2 separate regions of the Homo sapiens genome follow, and region 2 is linked to region 1. A link means that fine-mapping ties the variant in region 1 to the plasma level of a protein whose gene starts in the linked region. Region 1 holds a variant in brackets. A gene starts in the other region. All regions are shown on their reverse strands. Region 1 has its middle 98 kb from the start of MIR5192. Region 2 holds the start of CD300A (CD300a molecule).

What was found. A credible set is the group of variants that fine-mapping cannot tell apart. PIP is the posterior inclusion probability: the model's chance that the variant is causal. The UK Biobank Pharma Proteomics Project read protein levels with antibody pairs (Olink). The fine-mapping took linkage between variants from a reference panel, not from the people measured, so its PIPs are less certain.
Region 2: CD300A starts here. The variant in region 1 is the best candidate, but not a certain one, in a credible set for the plasma level of the CD300A protein (UK Biobank, PIP 0.61).

Annotation. Positions count from the first base shown.
Region 1 is chr2:62,295,831-62,312,719 of GRCh38, reverse strand. No RefSeq gene overlaps it. Among named protein-coding and RNA genes, the nearest start is that of MIR5192, 98 kb to the right of the region's middle. RefSeq lists enhancers at 5,628-5,917, 6,638-6,707, 6,748-6,817, 6,383-6,908, 6,909-7,436 and 4 more. The variant A/G (reference allele first, on the strand shown) is at 8,875.
Region 2 is chr17:74,463,439-74,469,745 of GRCh38, reverse strand. It overlaps CD300A (CD300a molecule), which reads right to left and starts at 3,112. Exons shown (of 7, transcript NM_007261.4): 1 at 3,003-3,112. The coding sequence starts at 3,042. LOC124904056 (a long non-coding RNA gene) reads left to right here and starts at 1,972. Exons shown (of 2, transcript XR_007065899.1): 1 at 1,972-2,196; 2 at 4,996-5,738. RefSeq lists an enhancer at 1,971-2,100 and silencers at 2,461-2,520, 2,561-2,620.

The DNA.
Region 1 (16,889 bases):
AGGTTGCAGTGAGCCGAGGTTGTACCACTTCACTCCAGCCTGGGTGACAGAGTTAGACCCTGTCTCAAAAAATAAATAAATGAAGAACACTTGATAGAAAGGTATTATGTTATAGGTAGTCTATATATAATTATATTGTAAGAACAGTGTAGCATGTAGTTATAGTTCATTGCTTTAATTGTGTAATATTCTACAGTGTGAATATTTCAATTTGCTTATTCATTTACCTGTCAGTGGACATTTGGGATGTTTCTGGTTTGATTTTGTTTGTTTTTGCTGATATCTACAGAGCTCCTAAGGGTATTCTAATAGATATATCTTGATGCACACATTGGGTCATAGAGAATGTGAATATTCAATTTTATAATATAGTTAATATAGTCAATAATAGTCAATAATAATAATAAAATGTATCAATCTGTTCTCTTTTTGGTTGGTACTTTTTTGTACCTAATTTAAGAATTCTTCCCCTCTTTTTAAATATTTTTTAGCGACAGGTCTTGTTCTCTTACTCAGGCTTCAGTGCAGTGGCTCAATCGTAGCTCACTGCAGCCTGGAACTCCTGGGCTCAAGCAATCCTCCTACCTCAGTCTCCTGAGTAGCTGGGACTACAGGCACATGCCACCACACCCAGACAATTTAAAACATTTTTTTATAGAGACAGGGTCTGCTTTGTTGCCCAGACTAGTCTCAAAATCCTGGCCTCAAGTGATCCCTCTACCTTGGCCTCCAAGAATGTTAGAATTACAGGTGTGAGCCACCGTGCCTGGCCTCTTCCCTTCTTTAGTCCAAGAAAGACAGTCCTCTATCTTTTCTACCAAGATAAACAATGAAGACATGCTTTGACATTGCCCAGTTTCATTTTTCTCCATATGGATGTTTTCCTAGCTTCAGTTATTGAATAGTTCCTCTTTTATCTCCTAATATGATATAGCGATTGATATTTTAACCATAACTTCACATTGATTCTTCATAGAAGAAAAAATTTCACTCATAATCTTAATAAAACATTATGTTGACATATACCTTTAAAACATATCAATTAATTACTTTTTTTTTTTTTTTTGAGACGGAGTCTCGCTCTGTCTCCCAGTCTGGAGTGCAGTGGTGCGGTCTCCGCTCACTGCAAGCTCCGCCTCTCGGGTTCACGCCATTGTGCTGCCTCAGCCTCCCAAGTAGCTGGGACTACAGACGCCCGCCACCACGCCCGGCTAATTTTTTTTTTTTTTTTAAGTAGAGACGGGGTTTCACCGTATTAGCCAGGATGGTCTCGATCTCCTGACCTCGTGATCCACCCGCCTCGGCCTCCCAAAGTTCTGGGATTACAGGCGTGAGCCACCGCGCCCGGCCTTTTTTTTTTTTTTTTTTAAACTGAAAAGTGATCACTTCTGTAGAATATATTTCCTACTGGCTATGCCCTCCTTGGCTTCACCCATGGCATTGGGCAAGTACCTGGTTGGCCCATTGCACTTCAGTGCAGAGCCTGGAGCCAGAAGGGAGGCCCTGCCATTGGTCAGCAGGGCAGCTCGCCTCACAGCTTCATTTGGACAAGAGTCGCAGACAAGCTCAAGGGTCTAGGGGAACCAGGTTTGGAGATGTTAGACTGGGAATGGGCTAGCTCAGAATCAATCTGAATGATATGACATTGTTACAGGCTGGGTTGAATTATGTTCCCCCAAAGGATATATGCTGGCCCCCAAACCTGTGAATGTGGCCTTATTTGGGAATAGTCTTTGCAGATGCAATCAAGTTAGGATAAAGTCATACTCAACTAGAGTGGTCCCTAATCCAATGACTGGTGTCCCTATAAGAAGAGGAAAGTTTGGACACAAATACACAGGGAAAAGACCTCATAAAGATGGAGGTAGAAATGAATATGATGGGTCTACAAGGCAAGAAACGCCAAGGAATGCCAGGAACGATAAGAAGCTAGAAGAGGCAAGGAAGTGTTAAAGCAAACTATATATGTCCTGAGAAGGACTCTGTACTTCTATATTTGAGTCCTTGTGGATGAACTGTAACCTAGCTTAATAGTCAGACAAAATTGAAAACCTAATTTAGGAGTATGCGCCTGTAACAATAACTAAGTCTTGGCCAATCCCAGAGGCTATACTTCAACCATTCATACTCTGCTGAGTGTTCAAACTACGTTCAAATAAGGCAAACACTGAGCTGTAACCAATCCGGTCATTCTGTACCTCACTTCCAATTTCTGTACATCATTTCCCTTTGTCTATAAATCTTCTTCCACCATGTAGCTGCGCCGGAGTCTCTGTGAATACGCTTGATTTGGGGGCTGTCCGATTCACAAATTGTTCATTTAATTAAACTCAATTAAACTCTTAAATGTAATTCAGCTGAAGTTTTTCTTTTTTCAGAAGGCCCCTCTCCTAGAGACTCTAGAGAGAGCATGGCCCTGCCACCACCTTGATTTCTGACTTCTAACCTCCAGAATTGTAAGAGAATAGATTTCTGTCATTTTAAGCCACAGTTTGTGGTACTAACACAGACACCTTCTCCTCTGCCAAAAATAATAATTCATGTGATGGGATAAAAATGACTGGCGAGTTCCCAACCTTTCCCACCCCCATGGCCCCTAATGAGGGTCCTGGTTACACTCTCCTCAGTTCCTCCTGGAGCCCACCCTCCAAGGAAGGAGCCCCGCCCTGCCAGCCATTTGTGAGATAAAAATCAGAGGAAACGGAAACTGAGAGCCAGACCGGGAGCCCCTGCAGCAAGTGAGAGCCATGTGTGGGAGAAGACGGAGGGGGACGTGCAAGAAGAACTGTGCCTCTCACATGGCCACCGTGAGAATCGAGTGCAGTCTAACGAAGGACTACGTTCACTTATCGGTGTGAGAAACACACGTGAAAGACTTGAGTTATTTTGAAATCACGTTTTGTTTCATGGTCTTTTGACCGCATCGCAGCTCCAGCACAGAGCTGAGCCACGTGGACCGAGGCTCTGTGAGCTTTCCTCTCCTCCCCATCACTGAATGCTTTCTGCCCTCCAGGCCCCTGCTAAGTGCTTGGCAGACTCCTCTCCTGTCCTCACAGCAACTCTAGAAGGACAGTGCTGTTTTAGATGACAAAACTGAAGCCTCACAGCAAACCTCAGTGAAATAGCCAAGGTCTAAAAGCTCAGATTACCTCATGCCTAGCTCAGAACTATTAGAATAATAATTGAAGCAGCAAGGAGCCTTGAGGCGACACCTAGAAGCTGGCAACCAACCCTACTACTGGTCTATGCTCTTGGGACAGCCTTGCCTCCTGGGATAATGGCAGCTCTGTTACCCTCCAGGAGATAGAGAATGGTGTGTTTCTGGCATTGAGGCCTAGCCAGGCCAGGGTGGGCAGAGGTGGCTGCTATACAATGGGCTCTGGAGCCAGACCGACAGGGTTCCCCCCAGCTCTGCCACTCTCTAGCTATATGGGCATGTTATCTGACCTCCCTGGGCCTCTGTTTCCTCATCTGCAAAATGGGGATAATAATAGTTGCCACCTCAGAGGGCAGTTGTGAGGATTAAGTGAATTAATACAGTATGTGACATGCTTAGAACAGCACTGGACACAGTAAGCCCTTAATAAAAGCTAGCTCTTGTGATTATTGAAAAACATGATGCTCTACTCAGATCTGACAAGACCTTAGCTACAAAAAATATAAATCATCAAGCAGACTGTCTGATATGTGTATTTTTATTAAGTGTAAGAATGAACCTCGGCTGGGTGCAGTGGCTCACGCCTGTAATCCCAGCACTTTGGGGAGGCCAAGTTGGGCAGATCACTTGAGATCAGGAGTTCGAGACCAGCCTGGCCAACATGGTGAAACCCCATCTCCACTAAAAATACAAAAAATTAGCCAGGCATTGTGGTGCATGCCTGTAATCTCAGCTGCTCGGGAGGCCAAGGCAGGAGAATTGCTTGAACCCGGGAGGTTCATTCGTGACCCCTCTATCTCAATTCCTGCTTCTGTGGAATGGGGATTGCTCTCTGCCTCACAGAGATTTTGTGAGCAGGAAAGGCACAGAGTAGGACTCACAGCAGCTAATAAATAAGTTTGTCTCCTTGGTTTATAATGGCCAAGCTCATGCACCCTCAGAATAAGTACAGAAGGTGAGGAGACTGTGCAAGTAAACATGGTAGGTACAGGTGACCCGGGTCCAAGCCCCTTGTTGGGCCAGGTGTTCCCTTTTCCTTCCTCTCTCTCAGGCCTGCTTAGGGATTAGAGGGTGGGAGAGCCAGTCAAGAGCAGGTTGCCATCCTCCAGCAGCACGGAGGTCTGTGATGGTCTGGGATGTGACAGGGACCTGTGGCTGATTTCTAACCAGCCTTCTAACCAGTTGAAGAGCTGGACCAGCTTTCTGTGCTGCAGAAAGCTGCAGCGGGGTTGACAGACAGACTTGCACTCACACCCTGGGCACATCACCTTCTGCAGACCTTATGGGCCTCACCTATAAAGCAGGGATAATAGAGCCTACCCCACAGACCTCTTCTGAGGATTCCAGATGGTACTTGGGAAAGCACCTTGCAGGGCACCTGGCATCTAGCACGCTTCTGTAAAAGCCACTCGGATGCGACATTCCTAGCCCACGTGGTTGCTCTTTGGTTTTCCTTTTCTGTAAAATGGTGATGATAAAACTACCACCTCCCAGGTTTAACATGAGCATGAGATAAGGCAGGGCACAGAGGAAACGTCGATAAAGGACAGCTACGAGGGATGTTACATGCTTTTACACTTATTATTCCTGTGAACCAAGAGTTTGGATAGCGCTCCGATCCTTGATAAAGGGCCTTTCCAACTAATCTCAGGGACCACTCCTACAAGAATCACATAAGCATGGCAACTGCTCCCTGCCTTCTACAACTTCCTGGCTGGCACAGATCAGGGACTCGCCCACAGGTCTCCTTGCTAGGCAGGCTCCTCGGCCCCTCCCTGGTGCCCTGTCAGCTCTAGGCTTTCTTGCCCCCTCATCAGGCAGTGCCTACCCACCCCTCATAGAAACCCACATGTACAGAGGGACTCAGGTTCAAGGCCTTCTCTTTTTTGGTTGCCCCGTAGATAAGCACTCATGGCATTTTAGTTTTGTAAGTTTCACAGCAGATAATTACAGGAAAACAGATAGGGGATGGTCAAAAGAGCAAATCCCAGGAAGGTGCGAAGTCCTCCCAGGCTGGTCCTGACTTTCTGGGAATAGGAAGTGTTACTCCTGAAGACTGTGGCGATTCATAGGACTTTTATATTGAACATGGGACCAGGACACCGAGAGGCAGGTCAGCCCTGGAGAAATTTCAGCCAGTGCTAGTTTCCTGTCAGGAAGGGCAGGGGAGAAATGGGCAGCTTCCACTCTTCACAAAGGATAGCAGTGAATGAACTCCACTGCTACAGAGACAAACCCCTCAGGTCCTGGCTGAAGACAGACGAGGCAGCCAGCAATCTCAGATGCCTTACCTATTTCCAGGGGACAGGGGGCTGGACACAGAGAGGAGGGTCACCAGCCTGGCACAGAGAACACAGAGAGCAGAAAACTGAGCCAAGAAGGCTGCCCCCTCCAAGTGTTTACCTGAAATATTCACAAACATGATGAGTCACAGAAAGAAAGCAGAAAAACCAGTAAGATGTGTAACCAGATTCTCTTCCACAAAGCAAGGAGAAGTTGTGGCAATAATGCCAGTGGGCACGGTGTGCTCTGCTGAGGGCCCTGCTTGAGAAACCTGTGTCTCCACCACACTTTCGGCCTCAGCTAAGGTTGAGAAGGGAAACTGACAACTGTGCCAGGGCAGGAAAGTCCCTGCAGGAAGCCTGCTGCTGGTCTGGGTTACCAGGGCAACTGGCAGCTGCTCTCTTCTCTTGAAAGAGAATGGACTTGGGAGGCCCAGATGGGCTCTGCCCTAGTAGCCCAAATAAGAAGGCTTAACCTTAGACAGCATCAAATAACATCGGAGTACGCCGCCCCCACAGCACTTCCCATGCATCCCCATCTGATTTCATCTACCTCTCAGGAGAGCCGGGTGCAGGGTGATTATAACCATTCCATTCCACAGTGGAGAAAACTGAGATCCGGAGACACTAAGTCACTTGCTTAGATTTACATGACTAAGAATTAGTTTGGATCCATCTGGGCATGGTGGCTCACACCTATAATCCCAGCACTTTGGGAGGCTGAAGTGGGCGGATCACTTGAGGTCAGGAGTCCGAGACCAGCCTGGACAACATGGTGAAATGCCATCTCTACTGAAAATACAAAAACAAAAACAAAAACAACCAACCAAACAGACAAAAAACTAGCCAGGCTGGGGGCTTATGCCTGTAATCCCAGCTACTTGGGAGGCTGAGGAAGGAGAATTGCTTGAACCCGGGAGGTGGAGGTTGCGGTGAGCCGAAATCGCACCACTGCACTCCAGCCTGGGTGACAGAGGGAGACTCTGTCTCAAAAAAAAAAAAAAAAAAAAAAAAATAGAATTAGCTTGGATCCTACCTGAGTCTTTAAACACCAAGTCTAGTGAACATCCCCCTACACAGTCTGGCTGCCGAATCAAGAGCTTGGGTTTTTTCAGTGCTCTCATATCTATGAATGCATGCATTCTGTTTGCAAAATACCAGGCATGGATCATACCCCTCTTCATCTCCCACATCAGAGATGTGAAACGGCCGTGCAAGGAGGCAGGGCTGCCACGGCAGCAGTTTGAGTGGGTAGCCAACATCTGACCGAGACTCGAATCCAGAGCTTTTTCCATGACACCAGCTGGCTGCCTTGCCCCTCACCACATCTGGAAAAAATGACTCAGGTGACAGCAGGCTAATCATGTCATCCTTGTGACTGCAGGTGCCACGTCGTTTATGAAGCACTTTAAAGTGGGAACGCTTGCCCTGGCTTTCCCCCAGGCCTTTATTAAGTAAAGGTCATGCTGTTTGTTAAGATTTGAGCACACTGGTGGCTGGCTCACAGGAAAGAGCTTCATAAGCTGTGCCTGAGATAAGGTTGCTTCTGGAGGCCTCTCTGCAGAGAAGAGCGAAGCCCACCCCCACTGCCTGGCTGGTTGGATAATAAGACTCAGAAGCTCCAGTTCTCCCTGTCCCGTCTGGCCTCTGTGAATTGTCTGACTGCACTGCCACTTTTCTCACCTGCCTGAGGTTACTGTCCCAGAACCACCTGACCGCACAAGAAAGGCGGGAGCAAAGATAGGTTCAGGCCCAGAGATGGTTTCTAGTCTCCCTCTGTGATGGTGATTTTTCTGGCTGCAAGAGGTTTCCAATCCTGTCTCCACCAATGATTCCACAACTTTCCCTCATTCTCTGTGACTCTGGATTCCAGACTCAGGGCCCCGAGGTAACCTGAAGCCTCTCATCTGGTCATTGCACTAAAACCTTGGCTAGGGCAGGTGGCTTCCTTCTATGCCCAGATCAAAGGCGTGAGCAATGCCCTCAGCAGCTTCCCCAAGGCAGTAACAGGAAATAATCCTCCTCACCAGCCCCTCCCACCCACACTGTCCCAGCAGGTGGTGTTTGCAGAGGTAGCACCAGGTAAGGCAGGTGGCAGGGGAGAGGAACTGGATTGAAACCTCAGTTGGCCTCAAGCCACCCACTGCTCCCACCTTTCTTGTGTGGCTAGGATGTTCTGTAGCACAGACCACAGGTACGTGAGAAAAGTGGCAGTCCAGTCAGACACAGAACCTGCAAAGCCACATAGGAAGGGGAGAACTGGAGCTTCTGAGTCTTATTATCCAATCAGGGAGTTGGGGTGGGATTGGTTCCTCTGCAAAGAGGCCTCCAGAAGCCAGCCTTATCTCAGGCATAGCCTTGGGAACCATTTCCTGTGAGTCAGCCGCCAGCGTGCTCACATTTTAACCATGTTGGGCAGCATTCGCAGGCCGCCTGTTGTGAGGCAAGAAGCCTCCGCTGTTCTGGAGGAAGCCCACGTGGGGTGATTCTGAGCAAAGTCATTATGGGTCCTGTTAGGAAACATTAATTGTGTTTATGGGTAGAACCGCCCCCAAACAAATTAGACACATGTTCTAAGGTGTCCATTTTTTAAAATCTTGGTTGAGGTTGCCCTTTGGCTCCTGGGTGACATGAGTGCTTTGTTGTCCAACATTTGTTCCTGGGAGATGGGGTTACCAGAGGTTGGAAGACCTGACCCTCTCCTCACCTCAGGCTGGAGGAAAGGCTGTAACGATGCGCTGGGAGGGAACAATGCTGCCTAGACGGGCCTGAGGCTCTGACAACAAAACACTCAGACTGGACACTAAGATGGTGGTTTATTTTCTCAGAGGGGAAAGGGTCAGACCACACCTTCAGGTGTGGAGGGAGGAGGGAGATTGCCCCTAACAGAAAGGGGTGTCCTCATGGTCTGTCATCCCAAGGCAGGCAAGGAAGAGTGTTGTGGGCTGGAAAGGGAGGGATTTCTTCCTCTCTCTGTGGAGAAAGGGGGCCTGTATATTGCTGTTGGTGGGAGCTAAAGTGGCCCCTGCCAAATGGAGGCCTTTGGGTACAAGACACTTCTCCTCTGGAGGCAGATGGAAATTTCTAAGGCTGCTTTCTTTATGCCCCAACTCAGTGGAACCTGTGGTCAGATGAGCTGTGGGGGGTTGGGGAGGGCAATGTCTCCTTCCCAAGGCCTGGCAGAGTCACTAAGTCGCCAGTCCCATAAGCTACAGAGGCAGAATCATGGCAGCAAGAAGAAAAGGGTAGAGTGAGAGTGAGAGATACTTTCTGGAGCTGTGCAAAGCTGTCCCTGGGAAACTTTCAGAAATACTCGGGAGGGGAACTCTATGGTTAGGTAGAGTTAGATGTAGGAAGGAAGTATAATTTCACTTTAGAGTTGGTAAAGTTTCAACATAGGTTAATTGCATATGAAACACTCATTTCAAAGATGAA[A/G]TAACCAGGGGTTTGGAGGCCTGAGAAAGAGAAACCATGAGACGGGGGTCTTCTGTCTGAGAAGCAGGTGCAACCCTCTGGCGGTAGCAAAGACCCAGGAGTTCCTGGGGTCTTGCGTGGAGCCTCGACAGCACATGTGCCTGGATTTTGGGTAAGGGTGGCACAAGCGAGGCCAGAAGCACCCCTCCTTCTCCCTGGCACATCATAAGGTGATCAAAGAATAATTTTTTTGAAAAAAGTCAAAAGCTGGCAGGGTGCAGTCGCTCATCTCTGTAATCCCAGCACTTTGGGAGGCTGAGGCGGGCAGATCACCTGAGGTCAGGAGTTTGAGGCCAGCCTGGACAATAGGCTCTACTAAAAATACAAAAATTAGCCGGGCGTGGTGACGGGTGCCTGTAGTCCCAGCTACTTGGGAGGCTGAGGCAGGAGAATTGCTTGAACCTGGGAGGCAGAGGTTGCAGTGAGCCAAGATTGTGCCATTGCATTCCAGCCCGGGTGACAAGAGTGAAACTCCATCTCAAAACAAAACAAAAACAAAAAAGTCAAAAGCTAACCAGAGGCAACCACACATGGAAAATAGTACAACCTTATGACATAAGACTGAAAAGGTGTCAAGAGGGAAGAAATAGAGGGTCTCAGAATGGAATGTTAGCTGTCTCTCTCCCACACACATAGCTGAAGCCAAATGAGGGAAGGTAAGAGAACAGGATCCCAAGAAGGGTCACCAGCACCTCTCAGTTCGGCACAAAGAGGGCCAAGATGCTAAAGGCAGCCTGGGGAGTCCAGGAGAAGCTCCAGAGAGGAGGAGCCCCTGGGCACCATCACAGAAGCCAGCAGCGGCTGGAGGAGTGGCTGGCTGGACTTGCTGCTGTTCAGAACTCTGTGCTGTCCAAGGGAATGAGCTGAAGTCCCAGGAGGGGACATGTGCCTGCCAAGTGGAGCAGACCCAGGTGTGGGATGCTAGCCCACGTCAGGAGGGAGCCAGGCCCAGCTCTGTCCTTCACCTGTCCATGTGACCCTCAGAGCTCAGGAAGCAGGAAGGAAGTACCACCCAGTCCCCAAACTCTAGTATTGAGGAAATGACAGGTAGCTAGAAAAGGTGTCAAAAAGAATTCGTCCTCACACTCTCAGAGCGTTAGATAGTCTGATCAGACTTACCTGTGCAAAATTAAAAGAGACAGCATGAAGGCTAAGCCAACATACTAGATTTTAAAAAAGAAGAACACCAAGAAGGAGAAGGCAGAGTAGGAGAAAGAAGAGAAGGAAAATAAGCAAGAAACAGGCTGAGTGCGGCAGCTCATGCCTGTAATCCCAGCACTTTGGGAGGGTAAGGCAGGAGGATCACTTGAGCCCAGTAGTTCGAGACCAGGCTGGGCAACATAGTGAGACCCTGTCTCTATGAAAAATAGAAAAAATGACCAGGGTGTAGTGGCGCACGCCTGTAGTCCCAGCTACTCTGGAGGATAAGGCAGGAGGATCAATTGAGCACAGGAGGTGGAGGCTGCAATGAGCCATAATTGCACCCCTGAACTCCAGCCTGGGTGACAGAGTGAGACTCTGTCTCAAAAACGAACAAAAAAAGCAAGAAACACAACATGAAAAAGATAAACATATCCAGATATCTAGATTGGGAGAAATCTCTCTCCCAAGTACAGAAGAAAACTCCTGAGAATGCTTCACATTGTAGAACAAATAAGAATATATAATACTTAATTAATCATTTTAATTTAATAGTTAATTATATTAATTTAACAATTAATAATTTGTATTAACTTGGTATATAATTAATTTTAAAATATTTAATATGCTTTTGAAATTTAGTAAAACGAGAACCCAAAGATGACTTGATAAGTCTACCAAGTGAAATGCAAAGGAAATTCAGAGCTAAGGAAAAAAATTCAGGATGAAAACAAGAGCTTTATAGAGCTATTAGATAAATTAGAAACATCAAGGAAGCTTGAAATTTTCCCAGCTCAGGAAAATCTTGAGATAATTCTAGTGAACATGGAAGAAAATGACAAAGCAATTAAAGTAGTTAAGAAGATGTTGGATGTATGGAGGACAAACACAAATCAACGTAAGGATAATTACTATTGAATTTCAGGTCAACATGTTGAGCACAGGGTGAACTCCCCCTACTGCTGTCATCTCCTATTGCAAATGCATAGAAAAACTTAATAAAATATAAAAATATATTTTAGATTGATATGTCCAAGCTCCATGCAAGAAAGGGAAATCTCCAGGGACAGAGTAGGAACAAAGTCATACAGGCATCCCTCAGGCATAGTGCCAGTTTAGTTCCAGACCACCACGCAGTAAATATCATGATAAAGCAAGTCACAAAAATTTTTTGGTTTCCCAGTGCATATAAAAGTATGTTTACCCTATACTGTGGTTTATTAAGTGTGCAATAGCATATGTCTAAACAATGTACATACCTTAATTAAAAGATAATATTGCTAAAAAATGCTAATGAAGTGAGCACGTGCTGTTGGAAAAATAGCACTGATAGACTTGCTCCACGCAGGGTTGCCACAAACCTTCAATTTGTAAAAAATGCAATATCTGCAAAGTGCAATAAAGCAAAGTATAATAAAATAAAACATGCCTGTAAATGGGAGCTAAAGCCGGAAGACCCACAGGGGACTCAGACTGGATGAGCTGTGGTTGCAATTTCAATGCGTCATGAGCCCCACATGCAGCAGGAAGCCATGAGTCCAGGAGGCAGGACCATGCCACCCCTTCAGGAAGAGGGCTGCCCAAGGTTGTGGCTGAACACAAGCCATCTGCCCAGCTATCAGTGGAAACAGTCAACAGTCCTGGTCCACTAGCCATAGACTTGGTTTGAAGTCAGTGCTCTATTCCATAGGACAACACTGAAACCTCCTCACCGGAATCCTTCTTCTAAAACCCAGACCACACAGTGGAGAAGTCCCAAGAAAGATGGCTCCCATGAAAGACAAGCTCATAGGCAAGAATTACACACCCTATAAGGAAGATCAACAACACTAAAGGCAGTTTTCAGACCCCCCCAAAGAAGAAAATTTATACTTAAGGAACTAGAGATAATAGACAATCTTGAAGGGGGTTTTAAAATGTATACATAAAACTTCAGGGAACTAAATGAAAGAATAGCCATCACAAATAAGAACAGATGGTTATGAAATAAAAATAGGCAAATACGTGAAAAAGTATACATATTAGAAACGAATAATGCAGTTATTGAGGTAGCTGGATGTCTTATTTATGTTTTATAGGTGTGTGAGTTTTTTATACACAAACATTCACATGTACATATACAGAAAAAGATTGGAGGGAAATACATCAAGTGGTAAGTAATAGCTAACTCTGAGAATAGGACTAGGGGTGTTTTAATTTTCTTCTTTTTGCCTACCTGTAACTTCAAACTTTTTTGTTACAGTGAATATGTAATTAAGAAAAGAAAAAAATCACTAAGAGACATATTTGTTTTTTAATTTTTAACTTTTATATTTTTGTAGGGACAAGGTCTCTCTATATTGCCCAAGCTGGCCTCAAACTCCTGGGCTCAAGCAATCCTCTCGCCTCACCCTCTCAAAGTGCTGGGATTACAAGTGTGAGCCACTGTGCTCAGCCTAAAGACACATTTTAATTTCACAATGATGAAGGATGTATACCTACTATGTACCCTCAAAATTAAAAATTGAAAAAAAAAGCGAAGGCAGAGTTGGTAGTGCTTGGACTCAGTCAATATCACCACATGTAAAATGATCATGAATTAAACCAAGAGATATTAATAAAATTTTATTATACTACATGAAAATAGTTGAATAAGATTTGAACAAATGTTTAGAGCATATTGGGATTGTCTGACCTTATTTAGGATCAAGGTGATACCCAAAATAATTCACTTCAAAGAGTGAGGCAGGCATCCTCCAGAGTGTCTACCACTGAGACCCAGTGAGAGGCCCTGGTGGAGAAGGGAGGTTCTGCGCCAAAGAAGCCAAGCAGTAATTTTGAATGTGAGCTGCACATAAAAAAATCATACAGGGCTGGGCGCAGTGGCTCATGCCTGTAATCCCAGCACTTTGGGAGGCAGAGGCAGGGGGACCACTTGAGGTCAGGAGTTCGAGACCAGCCTGGCCAACAAGGCAAAACCCCGTCTCTACTAAAAATAATACAAAAAAATTAGCCAGGCGTCGTGGTGTACACCTGTAAGCCCAGCTACTCAGGAGACTGAGGCAAGAGAATCACTTGAACCCAGGAAGTGGAGGTTACAGTGTAATGTATGTGTATACACAGTGTAATGTGAGTTTCCCAGTCACAGCATCCTAAGGGACTGAGTCACAACTGCAGTGTGAATAGAAATATTTTTTACCCTAGGCCCCTACCCCATGGTCCCCTCCTCCTCCTCCTCCTGGCAGGGCCCAAGTATCTCATCAACACTGCCTCCGCTGATAAAGCCTTCCTGGACTTCTCTCTGGGCTATTCTCCACTGTGCTTCAGTGGGATCGGCAGCAGGTTTTGCATGAGCACCAGCCTGGCCATCATCAAGGCAAGCAGTGATGTTGCCAACTCCATACATCACTGCTAGTGTTGGCCACTAGCAATACAGTGTAGTCACTGTCACTCCCCAGTGAGGACATCACCGTGTACTCTGACCGTGGTTGCCACTACCCCATGTTGGGGCTGACACTACCCCATTGCCCCTGTGCCAATTAGACCAAAGAGTGCCCTTCCTTAAGACATTGGACTTCCTCTAACAGAAAACCATCATGATATTCTGACTTTAGGATGCAACACTTGGCTGCCATTTGCTGGAAAGATTTCTCTTTGGTGTCCATTATGTGTATGGGCTTCTTGGGATGTGGTAGGGCACAGCCTGGCCAGTTTCTAACTCTTTGAAGTGGAAGAGATGTCTCTCCTGATCAGTTTTCATGGCTTGTTTATAAGGCTCCAAAAGGACCACTCCTGCTCTTTTCATTTTCTTAGGGCCTCCTAGATTCCTCCACCAGGGCTGGGTCAGAAGTCATCAACCATCAACCACCATCAACCACCCAGGGATACGTGCAAGAGACTCCCCGCAGTGATTCTACCATGGAGTGATTTTTTTGCCCATCCAAGCATATTCTTCAGGGGTCAAAGTCACCTTTGTCTTTATTTTTTTTCCCCTAGACATGTAAACCTGCTCTCCTAGAATCCTGTAGTCAGTCCTTAAAATTATCTTCATTTCTTCAAGGAGTCCTAGTGGGTTTTCACACAGAGTGGATACCTGAAATCCCATCTGGGCATGCCAACGCTTAGCTCTTGCCTCCAGCACAACTGGGGTCACAGGAGTCTCTGCCACACAATTGTGACTTATTAGACAAACATGGCCTGCAGCTGCCTGAACTTGGCTGGCTTCTCTGAAAGAGTCTCCTTCCATCACAAGTCACCTGTGGTCTCTTAGTGTTCATTCACAACAGTTGATATTTAACAACCAAAGCCAGCCCAACATATAATAAGGTGTTTGAACTAAACCAAGAAGTTTCTCCCTCTAAACTTCAATTGGGTTAAATTTCTTAGGAAGAGAGCCCCTTAAAGAAGCAGCCATCAGTCAGTGTTAACTAAGCATCTCCTAACAAAGCTCTTAGATGCGGAAGAGGACTCCAAGGTGGTCTCCAACTCTCCATAGGAATTGCATCCTACAATTCCATTCCATCCTGATTAATATGTAGGATTAATTAATATGTTGGATTGGACCTGAAGTCAGTGCAGACACCACAGGTTTAGGGTTTAGTCCCATGAGACTGCTCCACTTTGGATGCCAGTCGAAAGTCACAGGTTGTCCCCAGTACTTCTGATCAATCAGCTATAAACCAAGAGTTTCCACAACCCCCTCCTCAGGTTGGATAATTTGCTAGAAGGACTCACAGAACTCAGGAAAGTATTTTACTTACTATTACTGGTTTATTGGAATGGATACAAGTTAGAAACAGGCAAATGGAAGAGATGTAAAGGACAAGGTACTAGGGGGCGGTGTGGAGCTTCCACGCTCTCTCTGGAATGCCACCCTCCCAGGACCTCAACGTATTCAGCAACTCAGAAGCTCTCTGAACCTCACTGTTCAGTTTTTAATGGAGATCCCATTACCTAGACATGATTGATTAAATCATTAGCCATTGGTGATTGACTCTATCTCCAGCCCCTCTCTCTTCCCAGGAGGTCCAGGATAGGGCTGAAAGTTCCAATCCTCTACTCCTGCCTTGGTCTTTCTGGAGAGCAGCCCCCATCCTGAAGCTAACTAGGGACCCCCAGCCACCGGACATCTCATTGGCACACAAAAGACACTCATCTCTTGGGGACAAAGCCCAAGTATATCTTATCACAGATAGACAGACTGGGCCCCTTCATGGAAAAAGTTCCCAATTTACTCTGAAAGATAAGAGTGACTATACTTCGCTGCTTGCCTGCCACGGTCCCAGTTTACACACATTGTCCCAGAGTAATTATTATTCCCACCTCCTTTCACTCTTAAGAATGTCATGGTTTGGAGGCTAAAAGTCACACGGTCACCCTAGATAAGACACATATTTAAGAAAAGAGAACTTGGAAGTCAGAGTAGAACACACCATTAAGTGTTAGGATTGTCACAAAGCCCATGAGGCTGGCTAGGGACCCCTGGAGTCAGTGTCTAAGGCTCCTTTTCTTACCAGGCCCTGCACATGCCTCTCGCACCAGGGAAAGGGAGGCCTCTGGAGAGGGCAAGGGCACCGGTTAGATGCAGCAAATCCCAAAAAAGTCTGACTTCATTGCTTTTCCATTCGTTGGTAAAGACAAATAAAAGGCTATAAAATACATTTTAAAGGGAGGGCACTAGAGACAGCATTATGGACTTTAGACCTATGAAGACCTGAAGCCCTACTTCGTATCCACACATACCACAGGCTCTGAATGCTGAGTGAAAAATAGCTCAGTGACAGAGAGAGAGAGAGAATGTGAAAAAGAGAGAGAGAGAGAATATGTGTATCTGATTCCATGTGATTTAGGGGTTTTGTCTGGAGACATCCCTGTGCCTCGCTCCCCCTCCCTGGGCGTGGCTGGCCACTCGCATCCCTGGCTCCCTCCTCCCATGTACCACGTTTCCAGTCCTCTTTGCTGAGGATAACACTGCACAAAGACAAATGGTGAAGCCTCTTTTTTCTCCAACTGAAGTAACACCCAGGCGATGAGAGCAGCACATCTTAATTCCCAACAAGTTTACTCGAAGAGCCCCTTCCTCCTCTGCTCCCTTGGCTATCCGGCACCTCGATGTCCCTCCCGCCCTTGCAGGGAAGCCTGGGTGTTGCCAGCTCCCTGGTGAGGAAAAGGCAGGTTCTCCTGAGGGAAGGAGCGAAGAGGACATCTGACTTGGGTACCCATGTTCCCTTTGGTTATTTACCTGTCCTGTGGCTGACGCCACCACCCACACCTGGAGATGTCCCCAGAGCACACCGTGGGCGAAGGTGTTTTCCTCTCTTCATTCTCGTGTTTAATACAACCAGATCTTGGAAGCGCTGGGAAGAAGGGCAGGCAGTGAATGGTGTGACAGAGCCAAATCCTCTGACCCCACGCCTTTCCCTGGGCTTGACAGAGTGGGGACAGATAGGGCATCTCCACAGGCAAGGCTGTGGGGATTGATAAGACGGGCACACCCACAACTCCCGAGTCACTGACAACCCTCTGCATCCTGTGAAAGAGTCATTTTCAAGAAGTCAAAAACATGGTTGTAAGGGATGGCCCAAGGGAGTTTTTCAGGGGGATGATGGACCTGTTTTGTATCCTAATTGTGGTAGCAGGTACGCAACTATATATGGGCTAGAATTCATAGAACTGTAAATGAAGAAAACCCTCAACTTTGCCAGATGTTAATTTTTCAAAATTAAATTTTAAAACATGGCTTTCACACAAATATAGAATGAACATGTATCTAAAAAGTATTTAATCAGTGAGAGAACCAGCAGGATGGAAGAGCTGGTTTAAAAAAAAATGTAGGAGACATCAAAATAGTTACAATT
Region 2 (6,307 bases), not on the chromosome of region 1:
TCAAGTGACTCTCATGTCTCAGCCTCCCGAGTGGCTGGGACTACAGGGTGCACACTACCATGCCTGGCTAATTTTGTGTTTTTAGGAGACACGGGGTTTCACCATGTTGGCCAGGCTGGTCTCAAACTCCTGACCTCAAGTGATCCACCCGCCTTGGCCTCCCAAAGTGCTGGGATTACAGGCGTGAGCCAACGTGCCTGGCCTCAAACAATTAATTAGACTAGTAGGTAGTCAGACCAAAAATAAAGAAGACGCAGATATAAAATTCAAAAGAAAAATTTGCAAATCTCTGCAAATAAGTCTGCAAACCTGGGCGACACTGATGATTTTTTAGGAAAATATAAATCATCAATGTAGGCCAAGAATAGACTTTTTTTTTTTTTAAGAGACGGGGTCTTGCTTGCTATACTGCCCAGGCCAGTCTCGGACTCCTGGGCTTAAGCTATCCTCCCACCTCAACCTCCTAAAATTCTGGGATTACAGGTGTGAGCCACTGCACCCAGCTAGATTTTTTTTAATGTAGACCAAAAATGATGAGTGTTATTAAGAAATTCTTTCCCTTCCATCAAAAAAAAAGAAGCAAAACTCAGACAGTTTTACAAGCTAGTTCTCTAAAAACTTCAAGGAACAAATAATTTCAATTTTATGTAAACATTTGCAGAGAACACGGAAACAGGGAGATCTCCCTAATTCTTTCCATGAAGCCAGCATAATAAATCAAGACAAACATCTGACCAGATCTCCTAATGTAGTTCACCTCCTTCATAGCTGAAAGGATAATAATAATAATAATTTCTATAAATAATAAAAATGGTATTTTGTGGGGGCCGGAGGCCAAGGCTGGCAGATTGCCTGAGCTCAGGAGTTCGAGACCACCTTGGGCAACATGGTGAAACCCCGTCTCTACTAAAATACAAAAAAATTAGCCAGCAGTGGTGGTGGGTGCCTGTAAGCCCAGTTATTCAAGAGGCTGAGGCAGGAGAATCACTTGAACCCGGGAGGCGGAGGTTGCAGTGAGCTGAGATCAAGCCACTGCACTCCAGCCCTGGGTGATAGAGTGAGATTCTGTCTCCAAAAAAATAAATAAAAATAAAATAAAAAATGTTTTGTAGGGGCCAGGTGTGGTGGTTCATGCCTGTAATCCCTGCATTTTGGGAGGACAAGATGGGAGGATCCCTTGATCCCAGGAGGTGGAGGCCAGCCTGGGCAACATGGTAAGACCCTGTCCCTAAAAAAAATTAAGAATCCAGCTGGGTGTGGTGGCACACACCTGTAGTCTCAGCTACTGGGGAGGTTGAGGTGGGAGGATCACTTGAGCCCGGGAGGTGGAGGCTACAGTGAACCGTGATTGCACCACCGCACTCCAGTTTGGGTGACGGAGGGAGACCCTGTCTCAAAAAAATAAAAATGTTGGCCAGGCTTGGTGGCTCACGCCTGCAATCCCAGCACTTTGGGAGGCCAAGGTGAGTGGATCACCTGAGGTTGGGAGTTTGAGACCAGCCTGACCAACATGGAGAAAGCCCATCTCTACTAAAAATACAAAATTAACCAGGCATGGTGGTACATGCCTGTAATCTCAGCTACTCGGGAGGCTGAGGCAGGAGAATCACTTGAACCTGGGAGGCGTAGGTTGCAGTGAGCCAAGATCGCGCCACTGCACTCCAGCCTGGGCAACAAGAGCAAAACTCCATCTCAAAAAATAAATAAATAAATAAATAAATAAATAAATAAATAAAAGTAAAAATGCTTTGTGAATAGTCATTGGTGGATCCCTTCTTCCTAATAATGAGAAGCTCTGGTCCTTTTTCCCTGAGTCAGCAACAAGGCAGGGACAACCACTACCACTATGTCCGCTGGGCCTCACTCCGGCTGTACCAGCCAATGAGTCAATGGGAGAAAGAGAAACAGATATTAGACAGGAACTGAAACCTTCCCATGCACACCGACCCTATGAAACAGAAGAACACCCAAGAGAATCGCAGGAGCACCTGTTATGGGAGGATGACCCGTTTCCAAGTCAAGACACCAAAAGTAATAACCTTCCCACAGACAAGTAGTTAGCAAATATAATTGCAGAAAACCTCCGATCTGTAAGGAAAGCAACCACAAAGACGTACAATACCCTAGGACTAGGCCTGAGGAGTCTGCACAGGAGCTGTCTGAGGAGAGCGGTGGACGTGACTGAAGGCACAGCAGGTGACTCTGCGGGAGGAATCCCTGCGCTTGGACAGGGAAGACTCAACTCCACGCTTCTCCCTAAAGAAGATCTCAGCGCTTCTCTGCCCGATCTTTTCCCTCCTCGCCCTCCCCACCACCTTTTCTGTCCCCTCTGTCCCATATCCCCTTCTTGGAGAGGACTGACCCCTGGTTCTCAGGCCCATGCAGGGGCTAACCCCAGCCAAGGCTGCCTCGGGACTTCCCCCTGCTCAGGCCCCAGCCGCTGGGCTGCCCTGGTTAAATCTCCGCATTCCAGAGACTATCGATCTGCTCCCCACCCCGACCCTATCTCCCTCACCGCCCCACCCCCTCCTCCGTACCCTGCACCTAGTGAGGCCGGCATCTCCCCCACCCTCCCCACACCCCCCTCCTCCATACCCTGCACCCAGTGAGCCCGGCATCTCCCCCACCCTCACCACATGCCCCTCGCAGTCAGTGGCTGCCACTCTCCACCCACCCTGACACATCCTGCCTCTCGTCCCCCTTCCTGTAAGAATTCAACTGAAAACCTAAAAGGTCCCTTTTCTGCACCCACCCCTTATCACTTGCCCCGCTGTGGTTCAGCCAAGGTACGTGGGTGCAGAGCCGGGAGAGGCCCTGGCTCCTTCCTCTCCCAGGGGTGTGGACCTTCATCTGTCCATCTTATGTGGTAGACAGAGCGCACCGCATTCTGCGTTCTGCACGGAGTCCAGACTCGGGGCGTCTCGTGTGATACCTGCCCTGCGGCCCTGCCCCTCGCACCCTCCCTCCCTGCCGCAGACTTTCCCGGGAAGGGAAACTCTCACCTGGGACCCAGAGAAGCAACAGAGCCCAAGGCAGCCACATGGTCCCTTCCCCAGCACAGGCGGCACTTGCAGCAGCTCCAGGCCCTACCTGGACCCGAGGGGAAAGTCACGCCTCCAAGGCCCCGACTTCTGCTTTTCTTGGTGCCGCGCTGCTTCCTTGTTCAGCTTCTTTTGGTTCTATTCCTGGAGCCGGTCAGAAAATGCAGGAAGCTGGTGAGCCCCGACTAAGACTCCCTAGAAACGGCACGTCCTCCTTAACGCTGGTTGAGGCTGCAGGTTCTTCGGCTATTTCTAGTGATGAGACCTCTCCCTGTAGTGACTCCGTAGCTTGCAGGACTGATCCCCGACTCTCACTTCCCCGGGTCTCCTCCTAGTGGAAGGCCCAATAACTCCTCCCTCCTTTCCTTGTGGTCAAGGTGGGCAACCCTGGGGGTGGGACCCGCTGAGCTGGCTCCTCTCACCCTCGGTGGTGCCCACGAGGAGGCTGCCAGGGGGAACTCCCCTTTCCTGAGTCCCTTCCCTGAGTCCCTTGGAGGTCCAGGCCTGGGCTTCGGGGCTGAGGGAAGGGGAGTTGTCATCGTGACTCCAGAGTCCCTGAATGGTTCCTAGTCTTGGAAATGTGTCCTCAACTTGACACAGAGGTCCTCCGGCCATGCCTTCCTTTCTATATAGCCCCATTGGAGCCAACTCGGGGCTGGGCACAGAGCAGGGACTCAGCGAGCCTGCAAGGACCCCTTTCCTGATCCACACAGAGTGCAGACTCTAAACACACACACGCTCACACTCACATACACACTCACACCCACACACACTCACCCACACACATTCACAAACACACACTCACATACACACACTCACACTCACCCACACACATTCACAAACACACACTCACATACACACTCACACAAACACACTCACCCACACACATTCACAAACACACTCACATACACACTCACACAAACACTCACCCACACACATTCACAAACACACACAAACACACTCAGCCACACACATTCACAAACACACAAACACACCCACACATTCACAAACACACTCGCATACACACAAACACACATTCACACACCCACACACATTCACAAACACACACTCACATACACACTCACATGCACACATATTCACACACACCCACACATTCACACTCACACATACACACAAACACATTCACAAACAAACACGTTCATGCACATACACTCACATATACACACTCACACACACATTCACAAACACTTTCACAAACACATACACACACGTACACACAAACACATACACACATTCACAAACACGTTCATGCACATACACACACACACACAAACATTCACACACCCACACACAAACACACACAAACACACTCACACTCTCACATACACACACACTCACCCAAACACACTCACATACACACACATTCACACACACCCACACACATACACTCACACAAACACATTCACACACCCACACACATTCACAAACACACACATACGCACACATTCACAAACACACGTTCATGCACACACACATATACACACACACAAACACACAGGCACTCTCACCCACACACATTCACAAACTCACATTCACACACAAACACAAATTCACACACACTGATACAAACACACATACACATTCACACATTGAAACACTCAAATTCACACAACGCACTTACATATACAACTGAAATACACTCACACATTCACACACAAACTCACACACTGACACATTCACACACAGTGACATACACTCACACACACACAGTCTCACACACGTGCCTTGAGTAGGTGCCCCAGCTTGCACAGAATGACCAGGTGGGCACAGGAAATGCCACTCCTAATGTGTAATGCGTCACCTGGGAGCTTGCAGTCCCCAAGCTCAGAGTGTCCACCCACATGGAGCCCTGTGCCAGCTATGGGATCCCAAGAATATCCTTCCCTCTGGCCCTTTTTGGAATTTGTCACTTTCCTCTTCCTTCTGAACACAGGGGCGCCTTGCCCACGAAGGTGTCAGGAAGCCAAGGAGACCTATGGGCTCTGCTGCTGGAAGATTCAATGACAAAGCCTGGTGGACATTGTGGAAATTTTCATGATGATGCAGTCATAGATTAACTAAACCTCATTAAGATCCAAGACACTTCGGGCCGGGCGCGGTGGCTCACTCCTGTAATCCCAGCACTTTGGGAGGCCGAGGCAGGCGGATCACGAGGTCAGGAGTTCGAGACCAGCCGGGCCAACGTGGCAAAACCCTGTCTCTACTAAAAATAAAAAAAATGTGGCGGGCACCTGCAATCCCAGCTACTCGGGAGGCTGAGGCAGGAGAATCGCTTGAACTCGAGAGGCAAAGGTTGCGGTGAGCCAAGATCGTGCCATTGCACCCCAGCCTGGGTGACAAGAGCAAGACTCCGTCTCAAAAAAAAAAAGATCCAAGACACTTTGGATCATGACACTGTTGAGCTGAACATAAAAATGCAGGAGATGTGTCATATTCGGTGGCTTATGTGGCCTGATCATTGCAAAGTTTCTCAAAAATTATTTTTTGATTCAACCATGACCAAAAAGGCGCTGCTGCAATCTTGAACGTCCAGGCCAGACAGAGAAGCAGAAGGCTAAGTTCTGGCGTGGCTTGTCCACTTACCACCGAATGAACTTGAGCAAAGCCTGTGGCTTCTGTAAAACGTCAATAATGACAGCTCCTCTGTGGGAATAAATATTATTATGATTATACAAATACTGAAATGTCAGTGTTCCTTAACATCCTCAGGTCAGTTTTTTCTGAGGGAATATATCTCTACTTTTGATGAAAGGTAATAGGAAAATTGGATTCCACAGGAAGTGCGCTTTACACTTTAATCTATGGGATGCAATTCTCCTTAGGCACATAGAGAAACACCTGACTTACTGCAAAGGAGAAGGGATCAGGGGACTTAGACCCTGCCACGCCCATCCTGCTCACCCCATCCTGTCCACAAACCCAAAGGAAGAAACAAAATGGTGCAAAATAACCACAAAACATGAGAGTTTTTTGCCGGAAGTTGCACATTCCGGCTGTGTCCCGATAACCATCAGGTGACATGACTCAGGGGGAGGAGGAGATGAGGCCACAGGGCTGAGGCCCATTTCCCAGGGGTGAGGGTGAGAAGTGGTCCCACAGCAGCCACAAAACTTCTGATCAGCTCTGGAGTCTCTTCCTGGTGTGGACACACGTGCTCAGAGGCCAATGAGGGGTGCTTTCTGGGAAGACCTGCAGCAGCAGCATTGAGTCCTGTGAACCACCCAGTCCTCAGAAAAGATGTGGGG